2 separate regions of the Homo sapiens genome follow, and region 2 is linked to region 1. The links come from fine-mapping of genetic effects on gene expression. A gene starts in region 1. The other region holds a variant in brackets. All regions are shown on one strand. Distances are between the middles of the regions.

Region 1 (15,232 bases):
AGAAAGGTCTTCAATTCTAACAGAGAACTCTCTGATCGCAGGAAAAGCTATCTCAATTTCAATGACTTGTCCACTGACAGAAAATAGTGTAAGAAGGGCTCACTCTGGGGGAGTGAGAAGTAAGGCATTAGAGGAGGAAAGATGATAACTGAGTGGGAAGAAAGAAAATCATGAAGGACCAACAGGAGGCACCTGGGTCGCAGCCCAGGGAGCATTAATGATCCTACCTCCAGTTTTAGGGGCACAATACTTAATCCGACCCAGAAGGTGGAATGCAACAACCTCCCTCTCCTCCCCTCCCACCCCAGAGGCATTACCGCAGCAGATAAACAACTGGCATGACCCTCCAATAGAAAGCAAGATCACCTTTGCAGCAGAAGTGGCCCTGCCAGCTGCCCTTCTTCTTTCCGTGGGGACAGACACTGTTTTCCCTGGGGAGGCCAGAGAGCTGCTGAGTCTTCATTTCCTGAAGGGTTGGGCCAGATTTGGGAGCTCATGGGAGTTATAGAACTGCTTTTTCTAATTTACAAGTTCTAAAGTCTTGTTCCTGGTCACTTCCTTCTCAAAAGCGAAGGGCGCAGAGGCTCCTGTGGAAACACCTTCCCTTGTGAAGTCTGCACAGAGTCCTCACAGAGCCTCTGGAGTGGCTACCTTCCATGTGCTGGCTACCACCGTCTTCTTCCAGGGAACTCCACAAGGCTCCTGGCTCCCAGTCAAGCAGCCGCCTTTGTGTCTGTTCTTTTTCCACCCCCACCTCCCCAAGTATGCCTTCTCTAGTGGGATAAATTTAGCTCTGAATGAATGCAGAAAGAAGAACACATTAAAGTAAACACAGACCAAACAGCATTCAAATATAGGTTTGGCACACACACACAACTGACAAAAGATCCAAGTTTTTCTGTTTCCTTCTCTTCTGCTTATCTCTGTTTCTCCCATCTCATCCTCTGACTGCTACACTCTTTTCTGCGTGTATTTAAGCTAATTAGATATGTAGATCAGAATGTGGGGCTGTTGGTCTTCAAACCCCATGAAGGGGAAATCACTGGAGTGACTGAGAAACATCAAGGAGTGAATGAGAGCCCCAGGTGGTGCTGGCATTTTCATTTACTGGCTTGATCATCTTAGAAACCCTTCCAAAAACTTGAAAGCATATTTTATCTTATGTGTTAGCACAACCTTTTCTCCCGGTGCACTGAGTCTACAGTGGCTATAGAATGTTGCAAGGTCGGGCCGGGTGTAGTGGTTCATGCCTGTAATCCCAGCACTTTGGGAGGCCGAAGCGGGCGGATCACGAGGTCAGGAGATGGAGACCATCCTGGCTAACACGGTGAAACCCCATCTCTACTAAAAAGACAAAAAATTAGCCGGGTGTGGTGGCGGGCGCCTGTAGTCCTAGCTACTTGGGAGGCTAAGGCCGGAGAATGGCGTGAACCTGGAAGGCAGAGCTTGCAGTGAGCCAAGATCGTGCCACTGCACTCCAGTCTGGGTGACAGAGCAAGACTCCATCTCAAAAAAAAAAGAATGTTGCAAAGTCTTTTTTTTTTGATATGGGGTTCTCATTCTCTCATCCAGGTTGGAGTGCAGTGGCACGATCATGATTCACTGCAGCCTCGACCTCCTGGGTTTAAATGATCCTCCTGCCTCAGCCTCCTGAGTAGGTGGGACTACAACCATATGCTGCCACACCTGGCTAATTTAAATTTTTTTTTGTAGAGGTAGGGTCTCACTATGTTGCCCAGGCTGGTCTTGAACTCCTGGCCTCAAGCTATCCTCCCACTTCAGCCTCCCAAAGTGCTGGGATTGTGGGCATGAGTCACTGCACCTGGCCTGCAACACCTTCTAAACATCTTCCCACCAACCAGTCAGCATGTCCCTAAGCCCTACTTTTGAAGTATTTTATTTCACTGTAGTTCTTCACTCTCACAGCATTTGTAGTTCTCAGAGCACTTTCTCATTCACGAACTTTAAACTTATAAGAATCTAATGGGACTAGTTAGCTATCCCTGTTCCCAGTTTACAGATGGAAAACCTATTCCCATTTTACAAATAGAGAACCTCAGTTCAGAGCAGGCAAGTGACTTGTACAAAGTCACACAGCAAGTGGCAGAGTTAGGATTAGGACCTAGGATTGATACTTTGTCTTATGTTCATTCCACTCTACCATGAGCTGCTTTGGGGAAAGGCAGTTTGTCCGGGAGGCCCTGGCTGGGAGGGTCACACATTAGTAATGAGCAATTTTTGAGACTGGCTAGGATCCATTTAGTCAATATATGGAGGGTGTGCAAGGGGCAGTTGAGACCTCTGTCATTCCCAAAGGTGTCAGGCAGGCACAGCATCCATAGGTGGTAGGAGCTGAAGCTAGGCTTTCCCAATTTCATTATTCATTCCCCAGCCAGCAGGGTGGACAGGATTTAGTAGGCAGGCCACCATCCCTCCACTGCCAACCCCGCAGGAAATTTCTCTCTTGTCAGCAGTGCTGACTTGCAGAATGTACACGGCATTATTGAAACATGGTTAACAATGAAAGTGTTGATGGCCACGCTACCAAAAGGGATTCCAAGCTGACGGAGCACATCGTGGTCATTGTGCTAAGGTAAACCAGACTGGCCCCTAAGCTCTCTGAGAAACCAATGACCTGACTGTGTCTACTGGCATCAGATAACCAGGCTGGAGTAGAACCTGGCCTTCCCAAAGACTTTCTAGTTTGTAGCTAATTCATAGCCAAACCTAGAATTGTTTCTACCACAGAGCACCTTCAATATGTAGGCATGTAGCTCTCTTCCTAATACTCAAAAATTAAGCTGTTCTTCCCATATTTTCCTAGGATTTAATCTATCTCCTCTTAAATTTTTAAATTCCTTCTTATTTATAATTGTTAGATTGACCCACACTAAAAGATAAGACTGTAGATGTCTAAGAATCATTAAAAGCAGAGTCTAGTAAAGGTGTTTCTAGATAATAAATGACATAGGGCAGAATCCTCTTGTTTAAAAGATGGAAAATGAGAAGTACTGACTAATGGGAGGAATGTTAAGAATACCGATAGCTCAACCCTTAAAAAAAAAAAAGCCTACATAAAAGGGTGGATAAAATGAAGTCATTCACTTAAGTTGGTCCATGGCATTTTTCATGAAGCAATGATTGGGTTGAGTGATCAAGATTACCATTTCCAGAGCACCTACCATGGCCAATCACAAGCCTTTTACATCTGTTAACCTTATTTATTACAACATCCCTGTGAGAGGGCTGAGATTCCAACTTGTCTTCAGAGTTCCTGTCTTTTCTGTGTCATATCTACCTCCTACTTCCTAATCCTACTTTTCAAAACTTTTGTCATTAACAGGACTACCACTCTGGACCAACATCTGAATAACACAGTATTTAAACTTATCAGATATGACAACCCAATGAGACTGGACATCACATATTTTCATTTCCATCTTAATGTAAGGAAACTGTCATTCTAATCTATTATGTGATTTGTCCATACTACCACAACAAAATAAATGTAGAATGATCTCTAACCATTTGGCTCTAATTGATTCCCGTACACTCTCCTTATCTACCCAGTTTCCTCTAGGGACTCATGTTGATCAACTGACATTGCCAAAGCTAACCAAGAGAAAAGGAAGTCATCACAGTGAAATATTGATATTCATTTCTAGCCAGATTTCCAATTGCTCATTTTCAATCTGCTATGTAAAGACCTTAGCCACTATATACCTTAAGCAACATTCAGCCTAGTTTATTTTTCACAATGGTGCTGTTTTCTGACTTCTTTCTATCTTCTTGCTCCATGGGGACTCCCTAAATGAATCTATCATTTGGATCCCATGGAGAAAAATAGCATATACTTGAAATCCCATCAACTTTCCCAAAGAGCTAACAACCACAGGAGCCAAGAGGACCACAGGCAATGTTCTCCTTCTTTTGATTCTGTGCAGCTATCACATATGTTTTAAATGACCATTTATTTTCAAAAGATCCCAGGCAAAAAAGAACTAACACAAATATAAACATTTGAGGGGATCCTGGCATTCCTTTCAAAATTACTTTTGTCCAAGGGAAGCTTCAGGTTGCTGGGAAATGTCACACTCATAGCTCTTGCTCAACAAGACTGACTTTTACTCACACAACGGGCCTTGGCAAGTCATTTCCCTTTTGGTATACAGAGCTCTTGTTTTCCCCACAAAGGAATTGGCTATGATCGTTTGTGATTCTCAAAGGACTCATGTTCTAAAATAGATTCTGAAATTTTTATTAACAAAACATCTATTTTGCATATCTAGCATTCTGTATCCTTTTCGTATAATGCTTTGCAATGAAGCATCTATCATAAAAACCACTAAACCGTACAGATGGTGTTTATGCAACACAATTTAATGTCCCAGCAAGAACTAGTGATTTGTTACATACATTATGCATCATTGTGATGTATATATCCAGATTTTAAATGTTTGGAGGGCAAATAGTCACCAATATCATTGTGGCACTAGACTACGATTTTTTTTCTTAATACCAGGCCATGGCCAAACATCTAATATAAAATAATTATACAATATGTTTATTAAATAAATAGCATAGTTTGGGTTTTAAATGCCTGTGTTTGTAATGGGTTCAAAGATTTTAAAATACTAAAATTTAGAAAGTTGAAAGAAGTGCTGGAAGAGGAAAAAAGATTTTCCCTCTGCTCCTTGGCCAACCATCAGGCAGTCATTTCATGTGCCTTCCTGTTTCACCTAGGGTTCTTGGTCCCAAGCAACAGAAATAGATTCTGGCTGATAGGAGCAGAAAAAGAATGAAATGAAATTGTATTAGATAGCTCACAGGAGAGATGGAACGTCCAAAGAAGGAAGCTTGGGCAATGGGTACAACCAAAGGTGAACTAATAGCCTGAAGGAATTCTCTAACATGCTCAGTCTCCAAAATTCTTGGCAGGCACACATGCCTGACTGAGCCGAGATTGCCTGCCATACCATGGCTTCAGGGGGATCTGGGGAACAAGTGTCTGATACCTCCCAGCTTCTACCACAGGATGTGGCTCTGCCTCTCACTATGGCTTTTAATATGGGAAATCCCCAAAGATGGGAAGGAGTTCACAAATTGGCCAGCCAGAGGAAAAAAAAATGTGTATATGAACAAGTCTGTTACACTTCCTACCTGGCCAGAAGCATTTTGAATTTCCTCTCTTCTTTGGCTTTTTGTCTTACCTGCTTTGATAATCCGCAACACTGAATAAACACAAGCTTTTTTTATTGTGGGTCTCAGGGCAGTTAAAAATCACTTAGGAAGTACACACTATTGGTCATGAGTCTTTAGTCTATTCCTAGTAAATTCAATTAGTACAAAGGTTCTAAACCCATCCCTAACTCCCACATCACCCTGTAGAAATTTAATTCTGTACAGGTCTTCAGGAGATTCTGATGCAGATTTCTGATTAGGAACCATGTTTTAGTCTTTCTCATCTTTCACAGTTTCTTTACAAACGATTTCTATTTTTCTGAAGCCCCAACCCTACGCCATCAGTCTTAATCAATGACTCTTTGTTCAATTGGGAAAACCAGTCCATCTGATGCAAATTCACTTAACCTCTCTCCTGAGAGTTGAACTCAAACTTTCTTCTTGTCTTTATCCATTTCTTCCTCCTTCCCTACTTCGTTATTCCTTCTTCCCAAGGCTAACTGGCTAATGTGATGCTCATCTGAATGTCCTCTTGACTAATTAGAGACTTTGACTAATATTCACCTTCCTTTTTGACTGTATCTTTGGCCTAATTTCCCTGTTGTCTAATTTGCTTTGACCCCCAAACATCCAAGTCTTGCCTGACCTAAAAACCCTTTCCACTAGACCCTGCTTCCCATGGGCTATGTTCCTGTTCTCCACCTTCATCTTTCACATCTGAAGAGCTGAAAGAAGCAGTTTGTACTCATGGTTGCTTCTCTGATCTCTCGCTCATCCCCATTTTTGTTTGTTTTATTTTCAACATTCACTTGGTAGCAGTCATTCCTCACCTCTTGTAAGTGCTTCCAAGCTCATCTTCTGGACACAAGTCACTCATGGCTTACTGACAGCCCTCCAATGGTCTCTTCTTCATCTGCATCCCCCATGACCTTTCAGAAGCATATGACCCTGTTGAAAACCTCTTTCCTTCTTTGTGGCTTTTGGTGCAAATCCCTTTGAATTTTTCCTTCTACTTCTCGGATGATACTTTATCAGTCTTCTTTGCTGGGCTCTCTCCTCTTCTTGCTCTGTTTTCTCATCCTGGCTGTTCTCATTTCTTTAGCTGTAACCGCAAAGTAGATGACACTTGGATGTGTGTCCCCAACCCCGATTCTTCTATTCAGAGTTCAGATATTTCCAACTGATCACTTCCAAAGGGTGCCCAGGCCCTTTTCCTTCTCCATCTCCCCATTCCATCACTCCTTTTAAAAATTTATTGCGGTTAAAAATACAAAACTTAAAATTTACCATTTCAACCACTTTTAAGCATATGGTTTGATGACAGTAAGTACATTCACACTGTTGTGCTCAATCATACCTTTTAAATATCTGTATAGCTGGGAGTAGAAGGACCATTTCTGGTTCAATTGTTTATTCCTGGGGCCTGCTTCTATCTCCATATCATTGGCCAAGCCTGGTGCTTAATGGTTAAGAGCATGGGCTCTGGTGAGTGTGATCTGAGTTTAAATCCCAGCTCTATAACTGTAGCTGAGTCTTTCAACCTCTCTGGTCTCATTTTCCTCATCTTAGTATTCTCTACAATCACTCTGCTGAAGCAATAACAGCTTTGTTTATTTGTGAGCAAACCCCTTTAAATAACTTGTCCTGCTGGGGCTTGTGCTGGAAATGAAGAAAAAAGGATGCATTTGAAGAAAAGGATGGGCTTAGCCAGAAAGTAGAAGTTTCTGATATATTGGAGTGGGATGTAGAATCTGGCACTGGCTTGGATTTATTAAACAATCAGCTCCACCTACACTTGTTATGAAAAAGATGGGAAAACAATCCATCAGTAAACGATTTTGGTGAGTGCTTCCATCTTTGGTCAGAGGAGTAATTGTTCATCAGTGACAGGTGAACCTCTGTGAAAATTGAAAGGGCAATTTAGTTGAAATGGAAGCATTTATTCAGGAAACAGGTGATCTGGGAAAATTTGATGTGCATTTTTTTTTTTTTTTTTGAGACAGAGTTTCACTCTTGTTGCCCAGGCTGGAGTGCAATGATGTGATCTCGGCTCACTGCAACCTCTGCCTCCCAGGTTCCAGTGATTCTCCTGCCTCGGCTTCCCAAGTAGCTGGGATTACAGGTGCCTGCCACCACGCCCGGCTAATTTTTTGTATTTTTAGTAGAGAAGGGGTTTCACCATGTTGGCCAGGCTGGTCTCGAACTCCTGACCTTAGGTGATCCACCCGCCTTGGCCTCCCAAAGTGCTGGGATTACAGGTGTGAGCCACCGCATCTGGCCTGATGTGTATATCTTTTAACATGCCTTTAAATCCTATGGCTCTAAAGAGGCCATATTAGTTATTTCAGTGTTTATTTCATTTGATGAAGAAACGTTTGCATATGAATGTTGGGAATTCTAGCAGGTCCTGCCTCAATGTGAAGAGGCATTTTTTTTTGCTTTTGGCATTGATCTCCTTTTGGACTGGGCCTGATCCACTTCTTACATCCAGTCCAGGACCTGTCACAAAAGACTCACATTAGTACCACATGGTATCCTGTTTTAGTAAAGAATAGGTGAAATATTTTAGTGAGTAGATCCTACTTTTCCTTTCAGATGCAATGAACAGAAGACCCTGAAAGGATTTCAATCCAGAATGTCACAGGATAATAAGAGCAGATGTCTGTGATGCCCTTTACAAAGCACCTTTACATACTGTCTCTCATTCGTCTCTAATGACACCTATGTGATCCTCCATTTTTTCAGATGAGGAAACTGAGGTTCAGAGTGATTAAGCGAGTTGCCTGAGATTTCACAGCTAACACATTGTGAAATCTAGTCTAGCACCCAGGACTAAAAACTCTCGGCTTCTTTTAAGGCCACATATCGCCTCACCAGAAGGGTGGCCTCTCTGGAGATATACCCTACCCTCGGCCGACTTGATATTGAGAACTTGGTCATCTTAAGCATGTGGGCCACTTGGGCAAGGCAGCCCTTCCCAAATTGTAAATGTCCCCACGTGGAGCTCAAGCGTCTGGCTTGAGCCAGAAGGTGCCCTGAACACTCGGTGGCCCCAGCCCCCACGTAACAGCACGTGCTCGGGTCCCACATTCGGTCAGACGCCCCTCTCCACTGGCATCTGCCCGGTGGAGGCGCCACTGCGCTCTGCCTCCGCCCCAGCAAGCGCGTGTCCACGCGGGCGCGCCACGCCAGCCGTGCGCCCCAGCGGCTCGCCGTGCGCCCGCGCCCCAGGTGCCCACTGGCTCGCGCGCCCTCCGTCTGCGCCTTGGAGACCCGCGGCGGCGATCGCTCGGAGCCGCCTTGGACCGCGGCCTCGGGTCCATCACACTCCAGGGGCGGAGCGAGGCACCGAGACGTCAGGGCGGAGAACTAGCGCCGGGCTAGCGCGCCCTCCCGGCGGCTGCCGGCGTCCCACGTCCTCGGCTGGCGCGGCCGGCGGCGGCGGCGACCGGGAGATGCAGTGAGCGGCGGCGCTGGGGCGCAGCCAGGCGGCCGGGAGGGCGGGGGCCAGAGGCTGAGCCCGGGCGAGCCCGCCGTGCGCACAGCTCTGCCCGCCGCCCCTGGAGCGGATCCCCAGCCGTCCCTGGGCGTTCTCCCGGGTTCTAGCAAAGCCCCCCGGGGTGCCCATCAGTTTCCTTGGGTGACTACAGCGTGTGTTTTTTCTTTCCTCTTTCCCCTGCCTGTGTGCCCTTCTCCAGGATGGCAGAGGCGGAATTGCACAAGGAAAGGCTGCAAGCCATAGCAGTAAGTCCACTTTCATTTTATTTTCTTGCTCTATTGTCTGGGGTGGAAGGGGGCCCCCGAGGGTTTCGGGGCAAGCGGCATGCCAGCACAGTAGCCGCAGGTCATATGTTCCAGGGGCTAAAACTCTGTCAGGGCTCAGCTAGGCTGCCTTTTCTTTTCTATGTCTATAGATGGAGACCCCCAAGGGCGCGCTTTGGACTGAGGATTTGAATGTGGAAGATTGGCTTAAAAAAAGATGCTTGCTGCTGGGCTTTGGGGAAGGACTAAACAGAGGCTTGGGGTGGGGGGACGACTCCAGGAATATTATGACCGAATGCTCAGGCATACGTTGGCTTCATAGCCTGGAGAACCAAGAGAAGGGTGACCTGAACGGTGGCTGCCATCCTCTCTGCGGAAGCTGTCCTCCTGTTAAGTGGAAAACCAGGAGTCAGCGACTCAGCCAGCCACGCGGTAGAACCTCCTCCCAGAAACCGGGAATGTTAGTTTTCCCTTCTCTGTTTGATATTGACAAGGGCACTGGCACAAGCCACCACCCTGGAGGTCTGGGGACTTCATACAACTGGGTCCTGGTTATAATATTCCATGAGAGCCTCCTTCTTATGGTGTGGAGTATCTGAAAACCTATTTTCAGCCTACAAAGGAGTAGTCAGTTTTGGCAAAGTTCGTAGGCACTTTCAGAAAAGTGTACCCATGTGCATCTTGGGTTTAAAAAAGAACTCTCTGAGACTGCCTAGATTTGAGCAATCTTAACACAGTGTTGCCAATGATCCACAGATGTGGTATTTTTACTGGAGCCACCACAGCTGGATTATATATTTCCTTCGAGGATGAGGGAATGATTACTGCTGCCGTATGAAATAGTAACAATTAAAAAAGAAGGTCCGTTAACATATTGGCATAAAAGAATCTCCAGACATTCTTCCACCTAAATACATTTGTGTTTTTCAGTTCGGAAGTTCTCTGGAAACACATATAAATTTGTTGGAGAAATAGTGTGTAATGTTTTGGAACCAAAGTATATTAAAGCGTTTTCCAAAACCTTTTTGGACAGATTCTTCATTGGGAAAATGCACACAGACCCTTCCTTTTTTAGAAGCATTTGACATGGTCTCCAAGGCTCTGAGACCCTCTTTCTCAAACGCCTCAAATCTGAAATGTCTTGGAGACTTCACCACTGAAGTGAGAGAGATGTTTGCTGGCAATATTGAAATGCCATGGTTTGCCTATTAGGTAATCTTTGAACGTGGTGCTCTGAACTCAGAAAGGTTGTTTTTTTCTTCTTTCTCTTTCCCCCTGTGCATGTGTATTTTGATGGTTTGTGAAGTTATTTGTGGTTTCTAAAGTTGGTGGCAAGGCAGCATGGCCAGTGTGTCATGAACTTGATAAGAATGGTGATATTGAGTTAATGGTGCCATGTAGCTGGTGGGTGTTTTGTGTGAACTGGATAATAGGCTGCTTTAACTGTTGATGCAGTGGCTGTTCCCATTGGCTGCTGCTGAAGGCTTCCAACAGTTGTCACATTTTCTGCCTTTGCACAACCAGCTTTACTGGATGCCTGAGGAACAGCTGAACTCCATGAAAGGACTTGCTTTCCAAACATGGAGCCAGTAGCTGCTAACACTGGGGTACCCTTTTCCAAGTGCGGTTGAGTAATCCCAGCAGAGGCCAAGTCGATTTTCCAAGAAAGATCTAGGCAAATCTTTGGGAATTCTCTTGAGCATATAAGAATACACACAAATACTCACTTGTGCCTCTTCAGTTATTGAAGAATTGAGTTTGTCCTGTGTATCTGGGGAGCTGTTGATTATTCTCATGAATGTGCACCTAATACAGTCTGCCCTCCCTATTCATGGGTTCCATATCCACGCCTTCAGTCAATCTTGGATTGAAACTATTGGAAAAAATAATAGATAGCTGAGTCTGTACTGAACATGTACAGACTTTTTCTTGTCACCATTCCCTAAATAATACAGTATAATCAACTGTTTACGTCGCATTTACAGTGTATTAGGTATTATAAATAATCTGAAAATGATTAATGTATGTGGGAGGATGTGAGTAGGTTATATGCAAATACCATGCTATTTTATAGGGACTTGAGCATCCTTTGATTTTGGTATCCAAGGGGGTCCTGAAACCAATTCTCTGAGGATACTGAGGGATGACTGTATGATGTTGTCAGGACAGATTTGCTAACAGCGTGTGTTTGTTTGTGTGTGTGTGTGTGTGTGTGTGTGTGTGTGTATGTGTGTGTGAGAGAGAGAGCCAATTAAGAGACAGAGGGAGTTGGGTGGGGGGACTTATGGCCACATCGGTAAATGGTTTTATGCTATGCTTTGGTCTAGTGCCTACTCTTCTGAATTCTGCAAACCCTGACTCTCTCATCACTTTCCTGGAGTTCTCAGGGGACCCTGAGGAGATCACAAGCCTGCCCCCAGAACCTAGCACTCCTGAAGTCTCTCTGGAGATGTGAGGGAAGAAGACAATAGGTCCTCACATCTTCACTTACTTGGGCTTCTCTCTCAGAGGCAGAGAATCGACTGGGATTCCAGTCTGCAGGGCCTTGGGCAGTCTTTAGTCTGGGTCTCAGCTCCTTCATCTGTAGAATGGGTTCATGAGTTCTACCTCCTGGGCTGGTTGTAAGGTTTAGTTAGGATGGAGGTGAAGCACCTGGCAGGTAGCTGTCATTGGATGGTGTTGAGCAGAGCCCTTAGCTTTTGTCTGTATTGCTGTCTTGTCCTGTGGGGGGTCAGAAGCAACATCTCTGAAGTGGAATGTGTATTAATGACTTTTTTTTTTTTTTAGACAGAGTCTCACTCTGTCACCCAGGCTGGAGTGCTGCCATGACAGCTCGCTGCATCCTGAAACCATCCTCCCACCTCAGCCTCCCCAGTAGCTGGGATTACAGGCATGTGCCACCATGCCCAGCTAATTTTTAAATTTTTTGTAGAGATGGGGTTTCGCCATGTTGCCCAGGCTGGTCTGGAACTCCTGACCTCATGTGATCCTCCCACCTCTGCCTCCCAAAGCACTGAGTTTAGAGACATGAGCCACTATACTTGGTCTGAACAGCTCTTTTTTAATCCCTTCCTTCAACTGACTGAAAGTCAGGGCCCTGCCCAGCATCACTTTCTCTAACTGCTTTAGACAGAGGCAGAGATATGACTTGAGGATTCATTCATCCATTTGTTCAGTAGGTATTTACAGATTGCCTCCTCTGGGAAGGTATTGGCAACACTGAAAAGTTGGTGTCCCCAGGTTTCAGCTGCCTGAGGCTGAAACCTTTATTTCACCTTTTGCACATAATTTCTTGAAGGACAGATGTCCTGATACCTAAGATGCTTGTCACATGAACATCTGTGGAATATCCGCCCCCACCAACAAAACTGAATTAAATACTTAGAAACTACAGTGCTTTAATGGAATCTTCCATTTGGATCCAGGAACTAATCAATGAGAAAAGATGACTCTTATCCTAATTTCTGCCAAAAGAAGAGCAAGTCCATCTTTGACAATGATCTCTACACTCACATGCTCCTTTCTTCTGTAGGGATACTCCCCAAACTTTACATTTAGAACATGGTAAAAAGCCTCTGAAACAGCATGAGTGAGAATGGTAATCCCAGGGACTAATAACAACAATTGCCATTTATTGAATATTGTTCATTCAGAAAGGCACGGTGTGAAATACTTTTTGTTTTTCACCTAACGTTATTTATAGTCTAATGGAAGAAATAGAAAAGCACATAAGCAGTTACTATCCAGGAGTACTATGAAAATGAGCATCCAGGAGGAACATGTAAACCAATCTCAGAGTTGTGAAACAATTCCCCAAAAAGAAGACATTAGAGTAAGTCCTGAAAATTGGGTAAAATAAAATATAAAATAACATCATAACCTTCCCAATTACCAGGAGGCATTTGTTTATTCGTTATTTGATTATTATTTATTCAGGACATTTAGTGTGAGAAAGGGAAAGGCAAAAGCATGAAGAAGTTAAGTCAGTAGCTAAAGACACAAACTCAGAGTGAACACTGAAATGCTTTTCAGCATGTATTATCTCATTGAATCCTAATAAGAAGCTTATGAGGTAGGCACTACAGTATTACTCATATTTTATAGGTGAGGAGGTTCTAGAACTGGTCTAACATTAAACTGATAGTATCAAAGCCAGGATTTGAATGCTGCCCGCAGCAGGCCATTGGAGCCTTTGCTTTGACTGCTGCCCTGAGCTGCCACCCAAGATGGCGGCAGCGTCTCGCACTTTTCCCATGAGCACACTGTGCAGGTGGTCTCAGCAGCCTGAGTGTGAGCCACAGACTGATTCCATTGCAATGGGAAAGCTTGAGACAAGCCAGGAGGCCTACCTCCTTTTGAGAGTCTTTCAAGCCTGGATTCAGTGCATAGAAATACCCAACATAAAATTTAATGGAACGAGTAACATTCCCATGGGGAAGAAGCTGTTGTGTCTCAGTGGAAACTAACCTTGTGGGAGGGTGCTGTTATGTCTGCACATTGGAGAGGAAGATAGTTTTCTTTGGGCATGAGTGAAAATAAGTAAATGTTATATAAATTGTCTTGGGTGAAACTCCTAAGAGCCACGTGGACAAGGCTCAGGCTACACCAGGGACCAGCATGAGTATGTTTATATATGTGCGGAAATAGGAAATGCTAATCTAACCTATGCTGTTCTTTAGGGAATTTTGTCATTTAATTAGAACCCACTCTGTGAAGTAATAAAAATGATCTTTGCATTTGTGCAGTACTTTATAATTTATGAAAACCTTGTATATGCTACCTTCTTCCTGAGGTGTGTAGAGCAAATCTTATACGCTTTACAGGTGAGTATTCAGAGCTATCCAAGCTTACACAGATAGAGGTGGAAGAGTTGTAGTAAATCCCAGCCTCTCCTGACTCCCAATTCTTGTATTAGTCCGTTTTCACCGTGCTGATAAAGACATACCCGAGACTGGGTAATTTATAAGGAAAAAGAGGTTTAATGGACTTATAGTTCCACGTGGCTGGGGAGGCCTCACAATCATGGCAGAAGGTGAAAGGCACATCTCACATGGCAACAGACTGGAAATGAGAGCTTGTGCAGGGAAACTCCCCTTTATAAAACCATCAGATCTCGTGAGACTGATTCACTATCACAAGAACAGCATGGGAAAGACATGTCCCCGTGATTCAATTACCTCCTACCATGTCCCTCCCACAACACGTGGGAATTCAAGATGAGATTTGGGTGGGGACACAGCAAAACCGTATCACTTGTGTTAGTGGTACATCCAGCCTTGGAAGGGTGCTTTGATACGGGCTGAAACTGCAACTAAGATCCTGCTGGACTAAAATCTTCTGGCTGGGAGGAGAGGAGTGAGCTTGGATGTGTCTCTATGGAATATGCCCTTGTTAGGATTTCACTTTCGGCCTCTTTCATTCTTGAAATTCTCACCAAGGGGTCAGCTAGTGAGTTTATGGCTTTCATCTGATTCTATTCTCAGTCCTGCATAGACCTGGGTATACGCTGTTGGCCTAGGCTGGCTGTGCCGTGGGCTTACAGAGAAGTGCTCATTGGCTTTTCGTTGGATTCGCCTCTCCATGCCTTTTCTTGCCTGGGAGCATTACAGCCTTGAGTACCAGGCTTGGAGTGTGGGGCCAGTGGCCAAGGAGGCCACCACCCTGCTTTTGGTCCAGGCCTTTTAGGCCGACCTGCACAGCATGGGCAAAAAGTCCTTGCAATGATTTACATACTATCCAGTCCAGCTTCCCAAGGATCCCTCAGAGGGGTTAGAGACTCAAACCCAAGCCCTGTAGAAACAGGCACTGTGATTCATGTGGGGACCATCCCCATCCATGTTCCTTGTGGACTTGTGTTATTGGTATGCAGCTGTCAGAGAACTGGAGAATTTAAGATCCTGGTCATTCATCTGTTATCTTATATCTCAGAGATGCAGATGACACCCTGCTTCTAAAATTCCATGTTAAGGCCTAAAAAATCATTTGCGTGGTATATTGGTGCTGAGGAAGGGTTCAACTTGGCTGAGTCTGTGAAGCTGCCCACTGGATAGGTGACACTTTGGGCCCATGCAGGGTCATTGCTGTGTCTGGGAGTGCCAAGGCAGGCCTTACCCAGCATGCATAAGGGTCACACACCTCCCTGCTACTTATTTGTACCTCTGAGTATTTCAGTCTTCAGCTTATTGGGACAAAGAGCAGCTACTCTGACAAACTTTAAAATGCTCTGAGAAATAGAGCAGTTATCATGGAAAAAAAAAGTCATCATAGAAAAAGCTAAGTGAGGGGGGTT
Region 2 (15,232 bases), 220 kb after region 1:
GCCTCCCGAGTAGCTGGGACTACAGGCAAGCACCACCACACCCAGCTAATTTAAATTTTTTTTTTTCAGAGATGGGGCCTCCCTGTGTTGCCTAGGCTGGTCTAGAACTCCTGGACTCAAGCAATCCTCCTATCTTGGCCTCCCAAGGTGTAAGGATTACAGGCGTGAGCCACCACACTTAGCCACCACACTTGGCCACCACGTCTTTAAGATTATGAATAAAAAGGTGTCACTTTCGAAGATTCTCAAAGGGAGTAACTCCTCCCCCTAATACTGAGCTGCAGTCCATCTTAAGCCTTGCTGGTATACATCTCAAAGAAGAAGATATTGAGGATAGCTTGTGCAACGTAGCTCTGGTGGCCGCTAAGGAAAGAGCAAACAGCTCTATGGCTGCAGACATCAGGCTTTAAATGACACCAGGATGGTGAATGACCTAGGAACATAAACAAAGGGATGTCTCAGCTGGGACATAATCGCATCCTGGAAGCTTGAAGGCTGTTTTGTAGAGGAAGAATAGACGTGTGTTTGACTCCAGAAGACCATGCTAGGACCAGTAGTTACATAAAATTAAATTCTAGCTCAGTGTCGAGAAGAACATTCTGACCTGAAAGTTGCTAAAAATGGAATGGGCTGTGTATTGGTTTCCTAGGACTGCCATAGCAAAGTACCACATATTGGGTGGCTTGAAACAACCTTGTTTTTTTTCTGGGTTGAAATTAATTTCTTCTCTCACAGTTCTGGAGCCTAGAAGTCCAAAATCAAGGTGTTGGTAGGGCTATACTCTCTCTGAAGGTCTAGGGGTGCTTCCGGGCCTCTCTCAGCTTCTGCTCCCCGAAGCATTGCTTGGCTTGTGGTAGCATAACTGTCATCTCTGCCTCTGTCTTCATGTAACCATCTTCTTGGCTGTCAGTCTCTCTTCTTATTAAGGACTCCCAGTTATATTGGATTAAGGCCCACCTTGATGACCTCATCTTAACTTGGCTACATCTGCAAAGATCCTATTTCCACATAAGGTCATATTTTGAGGTACTAGGGGTTAAGATTTCAAAATATCTTTTTAATTTTATTTACTTTGTTTATTTATTTTGAGACAGGGTCTACTTCTGTCGCCCAGGCTGGAGTGCAGTGGTGTGATCATGACTCACTGCAGCCTTCCTGGGCTCAAGTGATTCTCCTATCTCAGCCTCCTGAGTAGTTGGGACTGCAGGCATGCACCAACACAACCAGCTAATTTTTGTATTCAAAGTATCTTTTTGAGGAACACAATTCAATCCATAACAGGCTGCCTTTATGAAAGTGAGTTCCTTATCCCTGGAAGTGTGCAAATGTAATCAGAGTTTTTCAAAATACTTGAAGAGGTGTAAGCGCTAAAGAGAGAATGCAACTAGATGACTTCTAGCATCTCTTCTGACCATAGCATTTCCTAATGCTATGAGTCCTGTAGTAAATGACTCTACTAAATCCTGGGACCACACTTGGGAAGACCACACAGTCTTGGTGAAATGTCACATGCACGGAAGCATAGTCTAGCTTCCAAAAACCATTGAAAGGAGTTTCAATCTTTTCTTTTAAATTCATATATATGTATATATATATATATAGAGAGAGAGAGAGAGAGAGAGAGCAGAGAGAGTTTATTTGGGCCAAGCCTGGGGACTGCAACCCAGGAGCATAGATTCAAGTTGCCCTAAATATACACTCCCTCCTTTTAATTCTTAAAGAACATCAATGAAGATCCCTTTTTCTGTCCCCTGCAGCTGCTCCTCTTGGAGTCTCTCTGTTCAGTACTCTTTTGGTCACACATGACAGAATCCTAATTCAAAGTGCCTTAAAAAAAAAAAAAAAGATAATATCTTCTTGCAAATTTGAAAAGTCCAGGAGTTGTTGTTTTGGGTTGGACTCCATTTCCCAGCTTTGCCTTCCTCTCTGTGGGCTTTCTCTTCTGCATAGTGTTTCCACTAAGAGGTGGCCACCAGGGTTCCCAGGTGTTATTTAGCAATTGAGCAATTTAGCAAACTCATTGAGAAGAGTTTCCTTCTTCCAGCATTCTAAGGGAAGTCCCAGGGCTGGCTCTCATTGGGCCAACTCTGTCACGTGCATTTATCACATGCCCATCCCTAAACTTGTCAGTAGGACACTGACCACCTCCTGAGGAAGAAAACTTAGGAATGGAGGCACCTCTATGTGAGTTGCATAAACTAGGAATAGAAGAGGGTAGCAGCCCAAAGGGAAATTGGAGTGCTATTAACATAATAAGGGGGAGTCCGTGTTGGGAGGGCCAAAGGCCAAAACCATCACTGTCTACTCTGATTCCTCCCCTCACACCACTATTCTCTCTTCCTTCCTCTCCTCATTCTCCCTCCCCTTCCTCTCTCCCTTTCTTCTCTCCCTCTGTTTTTCTCTCTCTCCTTTCCTCTCTCTCTCCCTCTTCTTTTTCACTCTCTTTCTCTCTGTCTCCCTTTCTTCTCCTCCTCTCTCTTTTACTCTCTCCCCCTCTTTTTCTCCCCTCACATCTCTCTTCATCTCTCCCTGTCTCTCACCCTCTTCCTCCTCTCCCTCAAGTCTAGGCAGCTCAGCCTCTCTCTTTTTTCTCCTTTCTTTTTCCTCCTGCCTCTCCAGCTTATCTCTTCCTACTTATTTTCCCAATTCAGTATTATAAATACCTAGCTACTGGGCTGGCAAATACTGAACTCTCCCTTAAGGGTAAGGACGGGAAAGAAATGGAGCCTGCCAGTGCCAGGTTCCTTTAGCAGCTAAGGGGAGGGAGGACGGGAGGAACTCCCATTGGTAACTTTTATTCACATCGTATATCAAATCATCAGAGTGATCCTGTGTCATTTTGAGTTGTGAGTGCTTTAAAAATTTGCATGTGTGTCCAGGACAGAGATAGATGAATTTGCACATGACGGCAGAGGAAGACTTTGGGATGTATCCACTTTGATGCTAAGTTATGGATACATCCCAAAAGACTAGACAAACAGTATCTGTGTTTTAGCTTCCAGACTTCTGTAGTGGGTCCAGCCAAACTCCCGAATGGGTTTTTAAACTTGAGAAACCTCAGGCTTTTTTGTTTCCAATCATACAAGCACTCTTGAATTGAAAGCAACACTGGGTCATAAAGCAATATGAAAACTACATAACTAATATCTTGATCCTTCTGCTTTCAGCACATTTAGCCCCACAGCAGTTTAGACTCAAACCCTCTAAACAAACCAACCCCCTCACCCCACTCACAAACAGCCTGCCAAGAGCATTGAGCGTCCAGTCCCTGGACTCCATCCTGACCACCTCCTACTCCCCCGTCCTGCATCACTGGTCTTGCTTTGGTCATCTCTGTGTTCTCCATTGCTCTGTCTCCCCTCCGCCACCCCACACCCACAGGCTTGGTGAGTTGTCCCCCAACACTCATATTTAGACTCTCCCTTCCTCAAGCCCCCTTGCTCTCTGACTCTGCTGGGAGGCTCTGATCCTGAGCCCTGCCATGGACCTGGTTCTGGGAGTTGACCTTTGCCCCACACCCATCAGCTGCGAGTCAGGGGCTCTCTTGTTCTATGCCTTGACCTGGTGGTACCCAAGTGCATTCATTTGCTAGAATTCATTTGCCATAACAAAATACCACAGCATGTCTACAAGCCACCAGGGCTGCCATGTATAACACTGGGTGGATGATTACCCTAAAACCCTTCTGGAACTTTCCAGATAATTCTTTTAAAAATATTCTCTTTTATAGGCTTCTACATGATTCAAGTGAGTTTCCTAAATGGCTGGGTGAGCTCCCATAGGTGACCTGACACTGCCACAGCCCTCTCCCACCCAGGGACTGGAGAGGAAGCTCTGGCAGGACACCCAGAACTCAGGGTGGAAATGGAACATCCTGGCCACCTACCCAGGAGAGGCCTCATGTAGTAAGAAAAGGGAGAGGAAGGAGCAGTGCTAGAAATCAGATTATACAGACAGAAAACCACCTCCCAGACTGCCTGATGGCAGGGGGTGGGTCTTTCCATCTTAATCTTTCCAGCCCAAGCACCATGCCTGCAACACAACAGAAATGCAAGGAATGCAGTTGAGGTGGTGCATTAGTCTATCCTCACGCTGCTAAAAAAGACATACCCAAGACTGGGTAATTTATAAACAAAAGAGATTTAATTGGCTCACAGTTCCACATGGCTAGGGAGGCCTCACAATCATGACAGAAGGTGAAGGAGGAGCAAAGTCACATCTTACATGGCGGCAGGCAAAGAGAGCATGTGCAGGGGAACTCCTCTTTATAAAACCATCAGATCTCACAAGACTTATTCACTGTCATGCAAACAGCATGAGGAAGACCCGTCTTCATGACTCAGTTACCTCCCACCAGGTCCCTCCCATGGCGTGGGCATTATGGGAGCTACAATTTGAGATTTGGGTGGGGACACTGCCAAACCATATCAGGTGGGGAGTGATGTGAGCACAGCTACATTTCTGAAAAATAATGATGGTCATGGAATGGAAGACAGATCTGAGCTGAGGACCTTGGAGGCCTGAACTGGTGCACTTGCCATGAGGATGGAGAGGAAGGATGAGGCAGGAAAGATACTGCAGGTCCCAGCTTCTCCATGAATCCAAGGGCTTTGCTCTCCACTCTGCCTTCAGCCTAGTGACACAATTTATACAGCAAGAGAAGGAATGTCACAGACCACCAGATGGGTAGCTGACCCTTCCAAGAGCACAAAGACTCTAAATATGTCCCTGTCACCACCTGCTGTTTTAACAACTAGTTGTTTAATACATCTCCTCTGGATGGAAACTAGATCCAAGACAGTGACTCTGGGTTTTGTTTAATTTTATGTCACATTTTTAGGGAGCAAATGTTAAATATGTTTCCAGCCTAGTAAAATAAGGGTGGCAAACTTAATCATTAGAGTATGTGGAGAATATAACAGGATCTTTTATTGGACCTGGAAAGGGGCCCCACTGAATGGTAATATTTGTGAAATAATTGGAGAGGAAACCAAGTTTTAAGCTATTAGTTCTCTAACCTTTGAGTAGGGAAAAGGAACAGTCCCTTGAACTTGCTGCAAGTCTCATGGTTGCTTAAAAAGGCTTTAATTTCTGAGGACTGGCACAGGCTAGCCAAAACAAACCATTTCCAAAATTAGTTTGGGCCTCAAGGGTCCTGTAAAACTCATTTTAAACAATGTACCATGATCCTTTTTTGCTCTCATTTTGTGCAATTGGAGTCTGCTTCCTTCTTCATATACAGAAGGATGTTTAAAACGCACCTTTGAGGGTAGGGTGTTGAAACACCCAGTTTTCTGACCCACTCTCAGATGCTATGACAGAGAAAAGCTCTTTTCTCCTTCAAGAGAGGTCCAAGCTTCTGAGTGTACTGTGGTAGCTGGAAAGCTATTGCAGCTTCATGCCCAGATATGCATCTGTGTGTGCACATGCACATGGGTGTGTGCATGGGCTGTGCACATGTATGTGTGTGGGTTGGCATGCGTACACACAAGCCTGCACATAAATGTCTAAGAGTGCATGTGTGTGTGCATGTGTGTACATAAGAACATATGGGCCAGGTGTGGTAGTTCACGCCTGTAATCCCAGCACTTTGGGAGGCTGAAGCAGGTGGACCACTTGAATCCAGGAGTTCAAGACCAGCCTGGCGAACGTGGTGAGACCCCATCTCTACTAAAAATACAAAATTTAACTGGGCGTGGTGGCATGTACTTATAGTCCCAGCTACCCAGGAGGCTGAGGTGAAAGGATCACTTGAGCCCAGGAGGTTGAGGCTGCAAGTGAGTCATGATCACGCCACTGCATGCCAGCCTGGGTGACAGAGCAAGAGCCTCTCTTGAAAAAATAAATAAATATATAATAAAGTAATAAAAAGTAAATAAATAAATATTGATTCCATCACTTGTTAGCTCAGTCATTTTAACTTTTGCAAGCCTGTTTTCTCATCTGCAGAGCGGGGATAATATTGTGTCTACCTCATCATGTTGTATGAGGATTAAGTAAGGTAATACACATAAAGGCTATATATAGTACATCCTCTGGATAGTCTCGCTGTCATTACTGCTACTATTGCAGCCCCGCTGGCAAACAGAGCAAGGGGGTTGAGAAGACATGGGGCCACACTGGCAAGACATTGAGGGTTTTATATACACATATATATATTTGAGATCCTTTAACATCCACTCAGAGGCACTCAGAGAGGACTCCCCTACTCAAGGAGAAATAGTTGGGGTTGCAGGAGAGGTTTCCAATAACCTATGGTGAGTTCGAGAAAAATAACTTATCCAAAAGATGGACCTTCCTGTTTCTCAATGAGCTCTCCTAAGAGAGAGCAGAAGAGGGAGAGGGAATTGCCCTCTATTTGGAGGCCGCAGGGCCTGGTCCTCATAGCTATCCTAAGGAAGAGAAAGCTCAGGACCAAGGAAGAGCCACCACCTGGAGTGGGGAGGGTGGGACGGGGTTGCATCCTGCCCTCCTCCTTCAAACCCGGGGCAGAGCTTCCCATCCAGAGGAAGCAGGCCCCATCAGCTTATCCTGGGGTGGGGCTTCCTAAAGCCAAGTGTTTAAAGGCAGATCATTGTTCTGAAGTTCCGCTAAGTTCTAATGCCCACCCTGCTGAGAAATCCTCCAAGAACAAAGTGAGATTTTAAAAATCCACAGGGTTACTTGGAGCCAAAGGCAATTAAGAGGAAGAGAAATAACTGGCCAAGTCTCAATGTGATGGCTGTCTGTGCAGAGACTCTAGTGAGGAAGAGAGCTAACCCCATTCTTTTTGTTGTGATCAAGCAAGATGATTCCCCAGTGGGCCAATCTTTTGCCTATAAAATGGGGTTGATATGATTTTGTCCAGGAAGAAGTCTGGTTTAGGAAAAGCAGAGGCATTCTTGTCTCCTTCAGTCCCAGCTTAGTGGCTACTGACTGTGAGACTTTGACAACTTATTTTCCAACTCAGAGCCTTGTATCTCTCCTTGAAACCCAAAAGGCCGGGCTCCAGACTTCCTCAAAGTTCCTTTGCTGTGTCTATGACAGTGGGCTGATGAAGGTAGAAGCAGGGGTGTGATGAGGACGAGAATAATCAGGATGGATAGGAAGGCTGGAAGGCTGAGAAGGGTATACCAAAGTCCCAGCAAACAAAAGCGAACACTCAATAGCCGTGGAGGGCGCCTCACCATGTCCTCTCCATAAGCCAGGCTACATAGGTCATCATCTGGGATCTTATTTTTCTGAATTGTTTGTGGCTCAGCTCTTCTTAATATGGTACTTTCTGACCAGGGCGGGGGAGTGGGGAGCCTGTAGTCTCAGCTACTCAGGAGACTAAGGTGGGAGGATTGCTTGAGCTCAGGCATTCAAGGCTGCAGTAAGCTATGATTGCACCGCTGCCGTCCAGCCTGGGTGACAGCGAGACCCTGTCGCAAAAAAAAAAAAAAAAAAGGGGGGATAGTCCATTCTAGCTGCCCAATGTGCATGACCTTGTGAGGTAGTAAGAACCATGACCAGGAAAAGGCCATGTCATCCATCAGGTGACTT[T/C]GTAGAGGAGGCTTCTGCCCTGATGGGAGAGTAGCTTAGGCAGCCTCGAGGCCCCTTCCACTTCAATTTGGGAAATATTTAATGAGCTCCCACTGTGTGCCAGCCCAGACTGTGCTGACTGAGGCCTGGGGTGGGACAGCAGGGAGGACAGTCCCTATCTTCAAAGTGCTCAGGGTCTGGCTGGGCACGGTGGCTCACGCCTGTAATCTCAGCATTTTGGGAGGCTGAGGTGGGTGCATCACCTGAGATCAGGAGTTTGAGACCAGCCTGGCCAACAAGGCGAAATCCCGTCTCTACTAAAAATACAAAAATTGGCTGGGCTTGGTGGCGTGCACTTGTAATCCCAGCTACATGGGAGGCTGGGTCAGCAGGATCACTTCAACCTTGGAGGTGGAGATTACAGTGAGCCAAGATCACACCAAGATCACACCACTGCACCACTCCAGCCTGGGTGACAGAGCAAGACTGCCTCAAAATAAATAAATAAATAAATAAAATAAAAACAAATAAAAATAAAAAAAATGTGCTCAGGGTCTCACCACCCAGACATGGTCTAGTCTAGTCCACCCATGTGGTTCCTGCCTCTCCAGTTTAGGGGGATGGACTGAGGCCTGGGACCATCTGTTCCCAGTGCCCTCTGCCTTCTCTCTTGTAGCATTCTTCTTTTCTCCTTCGGCACTCTCTGAAGCTCCTGTCGCCCAAAACTTCCTGCCCAGAACTAACACTTCTCATTTAACAAACACTTGGATGAGACTAACTGTGTATAAGCCCAGTTCCTGCCCACAGGTGCTTTGCGTGGAGAACGGCCCGCTGAAGCAGCATCGACCAGGAAGCACCATGAGACACATGTCAGGGCTCTCCCTGCCTAGGCCCTAATTTGTGTCCCACTAAATGGGGCCATGATCAGAACTGTGAGTTCCCAGCAGAGGGTGGAGGTGGAGATGCCACACTGGGGCTGAGCTAAGACACCACCAAGGAGGAGCTGGCAGCAGAAGGCTGAGTCCCAGGATCCCCTGTGTACTTAGCTTACACAAATTTGAGTGTAGATTCTTCCTTTTCTTTCCTTTTTTTTTTTTTTAAAGACTGAAATTTTTGTATTTATTGAATGGACCATTCCATTTTTCTCTATTTTTTTTCTTTTTTTAATTATACTTTAAGTTTTAGGGTACATGTGCACAACATGCAGGTTTGTTACATATATATACATGTGCCATGTTGGTGTGCTGCACACATTAACTCGTCATTTAACATCAGGGATATCTCCTAATGCTATCCCTCCCCCCTCCCCCCACCACACAACAGGCCCCCGGTGTGTGATGTTCCCCTTCCTGTGTCCATGTGTTTTCATTGTTCAATTCCCATCTACAAGTGAGAACATGTGGTGTTGGGTTTTTTGTCCTTGCCATAGTTTGCTGAGAATGATGGTTTCCAGCTTCATCCATGTCCATAAAAAGGACATCAACTCATCATTTTTTATGGCTGTATAGTATTCCATGGTGTATGTGTGCCACATTTTCTTAATCCAGTCTATCATTGTTCGACATTTGGGTTGGTTCCAAGTCTTTGCTATTGTGAATACTGCCGCAATAAACATATGTGTGCATGTGTCTTTATAGCAGCATGATTTCTAATCCTTTGGGTACATACCCAATAATGGGATGGCTGGGTCAAATGGTATTTCTAGTTCTAGATCTCTGAGGAATCGCCACACTGACTTCCACAATGGTTGAACTAGTTTACAGTCCCACCAACAGTGTAAAAGTATTCCTATTTCTCTACATCCTCTCCAGCACCTGTTGTTTCCTGACTTTTTAATGATCCCCATTCTAACTGGTGTGAGATGGTATCTCATTGTAGTTTTGATTTGCATTTCTCTGATAACCAGTGATGATGAGCATTTTTTCATGTGTCTTTTGGCTGCATAAATGTCTCCTTTTGAGAAGTGTCTGTTCATATCCTTCGCCCACTTGTTGATGGGGTTGTTTGTTTCTTTCTTGAAAATTTGTTTGAGTTCATTGTAGATTCTGGATATTAGCCCTTCATCAGATGAGTAGATTGCAAAAATTTTCTCCCATTCTATAGGCTGCCTGTTCACTCTGATGGTAGTTTCTTTTGCTGTGCAGAAGCTCTTTAGTTTAATTAGATCCCATTTGTCAATTTTGGCTTCTGTTGCCATTGCTTTTTGTGTTTTAGACATGAAATCCTTACCCATGCCTATGTCCTGAATGGTATTGCCTAGGTTTTCTTCTAGAGTTTTTATGGTTTTAGGTCTAACATTTAAGTCTTTAATCCATCTTGAATAAATTTTTGTATAAGGTGTAAGGAAGGGATCCAGTTTCAGCTTTCTACATATGGCTAGCCAGTTTTCCCAGCACCATTTATTAAATAGGGAATTGTTTCCCCATTTCTTGTTTTTGTCAGGTTTGTCAAAGATCAGTTAGTTGTAGAAATGTGGCATTATTTCTGAGGGCTCTGTTCTGTTCCATTGGTCTATATCTCTGTTTTGGTACCAGTACCATGCTGTTTTGGTTACTGTAACCTTGTAGTATAGTTTGAAGTCAGGTAGCGTGACGCCTCCAGCTTTGTTCTTTTGGCTTAGGATTGACTTGGCAATGCAGGCTCTTTTTTGGTTCCATATGAACTTTAAAGTAGTTTTCTCCAATTCCGTGAATAAAGTCATTGGTAGCTTGAGGGGGATGGCATTGAATCTATAAATTACCTTGGACAGTATGGCCATTTTCATGATATTGATTCTTCCTACCCATGAGCATGGAATGTTCATGCTTTTGTTTGTATCCTCTTTGATTTCATTGAGCAGTGGTTTGTAGTTCTCCTTGAAGAGGTCCTTCATGTCCCTTGTAAATTGGATTCCTAAGCATTTTATTCTCTTCGAAGCAATTGTGAATAGGAGTTCACTCATGATTTGGCTCTCTGTTTGTCTGTTATTGGTGTATAAGAATGCTTGTGAATTTTGCACATTGATTTTGTATCCTGAGACTTTGCTGAAATTGCTTATCAGCTTAAGGAGATTTTGGGCTGAGATGATGGGGTTTTCTAGATATACAATCATGTCATCTGCAAACAGGGACAATTTGACTTCCTCTTTTCCTAATTGAATACCCTTTATTTCCTTCTCCTTCCTGATTGCCCTGGCCAGAACTTCCAACACTATGTTGAATGGGAGTGATGAGAGAGGGCATCCCTGTCTTGTGCCAGTTTTCAAAGAGAATGCTTCCAGTTTTTGCCCATTCAGTATGATATTGGCTGTGGGTTTGTCATAGATAGCTCTTATTATTTTGAGATACGTCCCATCAATACCCAATTTATTGAGAGTTTTTAGCATGAAGGTTGTTGAATTTTGTCAAAGGCCTTTTCTGCATCTATTGAGATAATCATGTGGTTTTTGTCATTGGTTCTGTTTATATGCTGGATTATGTTTATTGACTTGCATATGTTGAACCAGCCTTGCATCCCAGGGATGAAGCCCACTTGATCATGGTGGATAAGCTTTTTGATATGCTGCTAGATTCACATCAAATAAAATACTGATGTGCCAGTATTCTATTGAGGATTTTTGCATCGATGTTCATCAGGGATATTGGTCTAAAATTCTCTTTTTTTGTTGTGTCTCTGCCAGGCTTTGGTATCAGGATGATGCTGGCCTCATAAAATGAGTTAGGGATGATTCCCTTTTTTTCTATTGATTGGAATAGTTTCAGAAGGAATGGTACTAGCTCCTCTTTGTACCTCTGGTAGAATTCAGCTGTGAATCTATCTGGTCCTGGACTTTTTTTGGTTGGTGAGCTATTAATTATTGCCTCAATTTCAGAGCCTGTTATTGGTCTATTCAGAGATTCAACTTCTTCCTGGTTTAGTCTTGGGAGGGTGTATGTGTCGAGGAATTTATCCATTTCTTCTAGATTTTCTAGTTTATTTGTGTAGAGGTGTTTATAGTATTCTCTGATGGTAGTTTGTATTTCTGTAGGATTGGTGGTGATATCCCCTTTATAATTTTTTATTGCGTCTATTTGATTCTTCTCTCTTTTCTTCTTTATTAGTCTTGCTAGCGGTCTATCAATTTTGTTGATCTTTTCAAAAAACCACCTCCCGGATTCATTGATTTTTTGAAGGGTTTTTTGTGTCTCTATATCCTTCAGTTCTGCTCTGATCTTAGTTATTTCTTGCCTTCGGCTAGCTTTTGAACGTGTTTGCTCTTACTTCTCTAGTTCTTTTAATTGTGATGTTAGGGTGTCAATTTTAGATCTTTCCTGCTTTCTCTTGTGGGCATTTAGTGCTATAAATTTCCCTCTACACACTGCTTTGAATGTGTCCCAGAGATTCTGGTATGTTGTGTCTTTGTTCTCGTTGGTTTCAAAGAACATCTTTATTTCTGCCTTCATTTTGTTATGTACCCAGTAGTCATTCAGGAGCAGGTTGTTCAGTTTCCATGTTGTTATGCGGTTTTGAGTGAGTTTCTTCATCCTGAGTTCTAGTTTGATTGCACTGTGGTCTGAGAGAGTTTGTTATAATTTCTATTCTTTTACATTTGCTGAGGAGGGCTTCACTTCCAACTATGTGGTCAATTTTGGAATAGGTGTGGTGTGGTGCTGAAAAGAATGTACATTCTCTTGATTTAGGGTGGAGAGTTCTGTAGATGTCTATTAGGTCCACTTGGTGCAGAGCTGAGTTCAATTCCTGGATATCCTTGTTAACTTTCTGTCTCGTTGATCTGTCTAATGTTGACAGTGGGGTGTTAAATCTCCCATTATTATTGTGTGGGAGTCTAAGTCTCTTTATAGGTCTCTAAGGACTTGCTTTATGAATCTGGGTGCTCCTGTATTGGATGCATATATATTTAGGATAGTTAGCTCTTCTTGCTGAATTGATCCCTTTACCATTATATAATGGCCTTCTTTGTCTCTTTTGATCTTTGTTGGTTTAAAGTCTGTTTTATCAGAGACTAGGATTGCAACCCCTGCCTTTTTTTGTTTTCCATTTCCTTGGTAGATCTTCCCCCATCCCTTTATTTTGAGCCTATGTGTGTCTCTGCACATGAGGTAGGTTTCCTGAATATAGCACACTGATGGGTCTTGACTCTTTGTCTAATTTGCCAGTCTGTGTCTTTTAATTGGAGCATTTAGCCCATTTACATTTAAGGTTAATATTGTTATGTATGAATTTGATCCTGTCATTATGATGTTAGCTGGTGATTTTGCCCGTTAGTTGATGCAATTTCTTTCTAGCATCGATGGTCTTTACAATTTGACATGTTTTCGCAGTGGCTGGTACCAGTTTTTCCTTTCCACGTTTAGTGCTTCCTTCAGGAGCTCTTTTAGGGCAGGCCTGGTGGTGACAAAATCTCTCAGCATTTGCTTGTCTGTGAAGTATTTTATTTCTCCTTCACTTATGAAGCTTAGTTTGGCTGGATATGAAATTCTGGGTTGAAAATTCTTTCCTTTAAGAATGTTGAATATTGGCCCCCACTCTCTCCTGGCTTGTAGAGTTTCTGCTGAGAGATCAACTGTTAGTCTGCTGGGCTTCCCTTTGTGGGTAACCTGACCTTTCTCTCTGGCTGCCCTTAACATTTTTTCCTTCATTTCAACTTTGGTGAATCTGACAATTATGTGTCTTGGAGTTGCTCTTCTCGAGGAGTATCTTTTTGGCATTCTCTGTATTTCCTGAACCTGAATGTTGGCCTGCCTTGCTAGATTGGGGAAGTTCTCCAGGATAATATCCTGCAGAGTGTTTTCAAACTTGGTTCCATTCTCCCTGTCACTTTCAGGTACACCAATCAGATGTAGATTTGGTCTTTTCACAAGTCCCATTTTTCTTGGAGGCTTTGTTTGTTACTTTTTATTCTTTTTTCTCTAAACTTCTCTTGTCACTTCATTTCATTCATTTGCTCTTCCATCACTGATACCCTTTCTTCCAGTTGATCGAATTGGCTACTGGGGCTTGTGCATTCATCACGTAGTTCTCGTGCCGTGGTTTTCAGCTCCATCAGGTCCTTTAAGGACTTCTTTGCATTGGTTATTCTAGTTAGCCATTCATCTAATATTTTTTCAAGGTTTTTAACTTCTTTGCCATGGGTTCGAATTTCCTCCTTTAGCTCGGAGTAGTTTGATCGTCTGAAGCCTTCTTCTCTCAACTCGTCAAAGTCATTCTCTGTCCAGCTTTGTTCCATTGCTGGTGAGCTGCATTCCTTTGGGGGAGGAGAGGTGCTCTGATTTTTAGAGTTTCCAGTTCTTCTGCTCTGTTTTTTCCCCATCTTTGTGGTTTTATCTACCTTTGGTCTTTGATGATGGTGATGTACAGATGGGGTTTTGGTGTGGATGTCCTTGCTGTTTGTTAGTTTTCCTTCTAACAGTCAGGACCCTCAGCTGCAGGTCTGTTGGAGTTTGGTGAAAGTCCACTCCAGATCCTGTTTGCCTGGGTATCTGCAGCGGAGGCTGCAGAACAGCAGATATTGGTGAACAGCAAATATTGCTCCCTGATCATTCCTCTGGAAGTTTTGTCTCAGAGCAGTACCCGGCTATGTGAGATGTCAGTCTGCCCCTCCTGGGGGGTGCCTCCCAGTTAGGCTACTCGGGGGTCAGGGACCCACTTGAGGAGGCAGTCTGTCCATTCTCAGATCTCCAGCTGTGTGCTGGGAGAACCACTACTCTCTTCAAAGCTGTCAGACAGGGACATTTAAGTCTGCAGAGGTTTCTGCTGCCTTTTGTTTGGCTGTGCCCTGCCCCCAGAGGTGGAGTTTACAGAGGCAGGCAGGCCTCCTTGAGGTGCGGTGGGCTCCACCCAGTTCAAGCTTCCTGGCTGCTTTGTTTACCTACTCAAGCTTCAGCAATGGCAGGCACCCCTCCCCCAGCCTCGCTGCCGCCTTGCAGTTTGATCTCAGACTGCTGTGCTAGCAATGAGCGAGGCTCTGTGGGTGTGGGACCCTCTGAGCCAGGCGTGGGATACAATCTCCTGGTGTGCCGTTTGCTAAGACCATTGGAAAAGTGCAGTATTAGGGTGGGAGTGACCCGATTTTCCAGGTACCGTCTGTCACCCCTTTCCTTGGCTAGGAAAGGGAATTCCCTGACCCCTTGCACTTCCCAGGTGAGGCAATGCCTCACCCTGCTTCGGCTCATGCTTGGTGTGCTGCATCCACTGTCCTGCACCCACTGTCCAACAATCCCCAGTGAGATTAACCCAGTACCTCAGTTGGAAATGCAGAAATCGTTTGTCTTCTGCGTCACTCATGCTGGGAGCTATAGACTGGAGCTGTTCCTATTCGGCCATCTTGGCTCCACCTCTTTTCTTTTTTTTTCTTTCATTCTTTCTCTCTATATCTCTTCTCTTTCCTCTTTCTCTCTTTTCCTCTCGCCTGCCTGCCTTCCTTCCTTCCATTTTCTCTCTCTCTCTTCCTTTCTTTCTTTCCTTTCCCTCCCTTTCCTTCCTTCCTTCTCTTTCTTTCTTTCTTTCTTTCTTTCTTTCTTTCTTTCTTTCTTTCTTCTCTCTTTCTTTACAAGATCTTACTCTGTCATGCAGTGTTGCAAACACAGCTCACTGCAGCTTCTACCTCCTGGGCTCAAGTGATGATCCACCTGCCTCAGCCTCCCAAGTAGCTGGGAATACAGGCTTAGACCTATGCCACCATGCTCAGCTAATTTTGTTTGTTTGTTTTTAGAGATGGGGTCTCGCCATGTTGCCCAGGCTGGTCTTGAAT

Evidence for each region.
Region 2: its variant is fine-mapped to the expression of PALM2AKAP2 in whole blood (INTERVAL, PIP 0.98).

What each region holds. Positions count from the first base shown.
Region 1 is chr9:109,771,609-109,786,840 of GRCh38, forward strand. It overlaps PALM2AKAP2 (PALM2 and AKAP2 fusion), which reads left to right and starts at 8,590. Exons shown (of 11, transcript NM_007203.5): 1 at 8,590-8,925. The coding sequence starts at 8,881. PALM2AKAP2-AS1 (PALM2AKAP2 antisense RNA 1) reads right to left here and starts at 663. Exons shown (of 3, transcript NR_171891.1): 1 at 367-663.
Region 2 is chr9:109,991,355-110,006,586 of GRCh38, forward strand. The region is part of intron 6 of PALM2AKAP2 (PALM2 and AKAP2 fusion); the gene reads left to right. Among named protein-coding and RNA genes, the nearest start is that of C9orf152, 210 kb to the right of the region's middle. RefSeq lists an enhancer at 13,939-14,440. The variant T/C (reference allele first, on the strand shown) is at 7,525.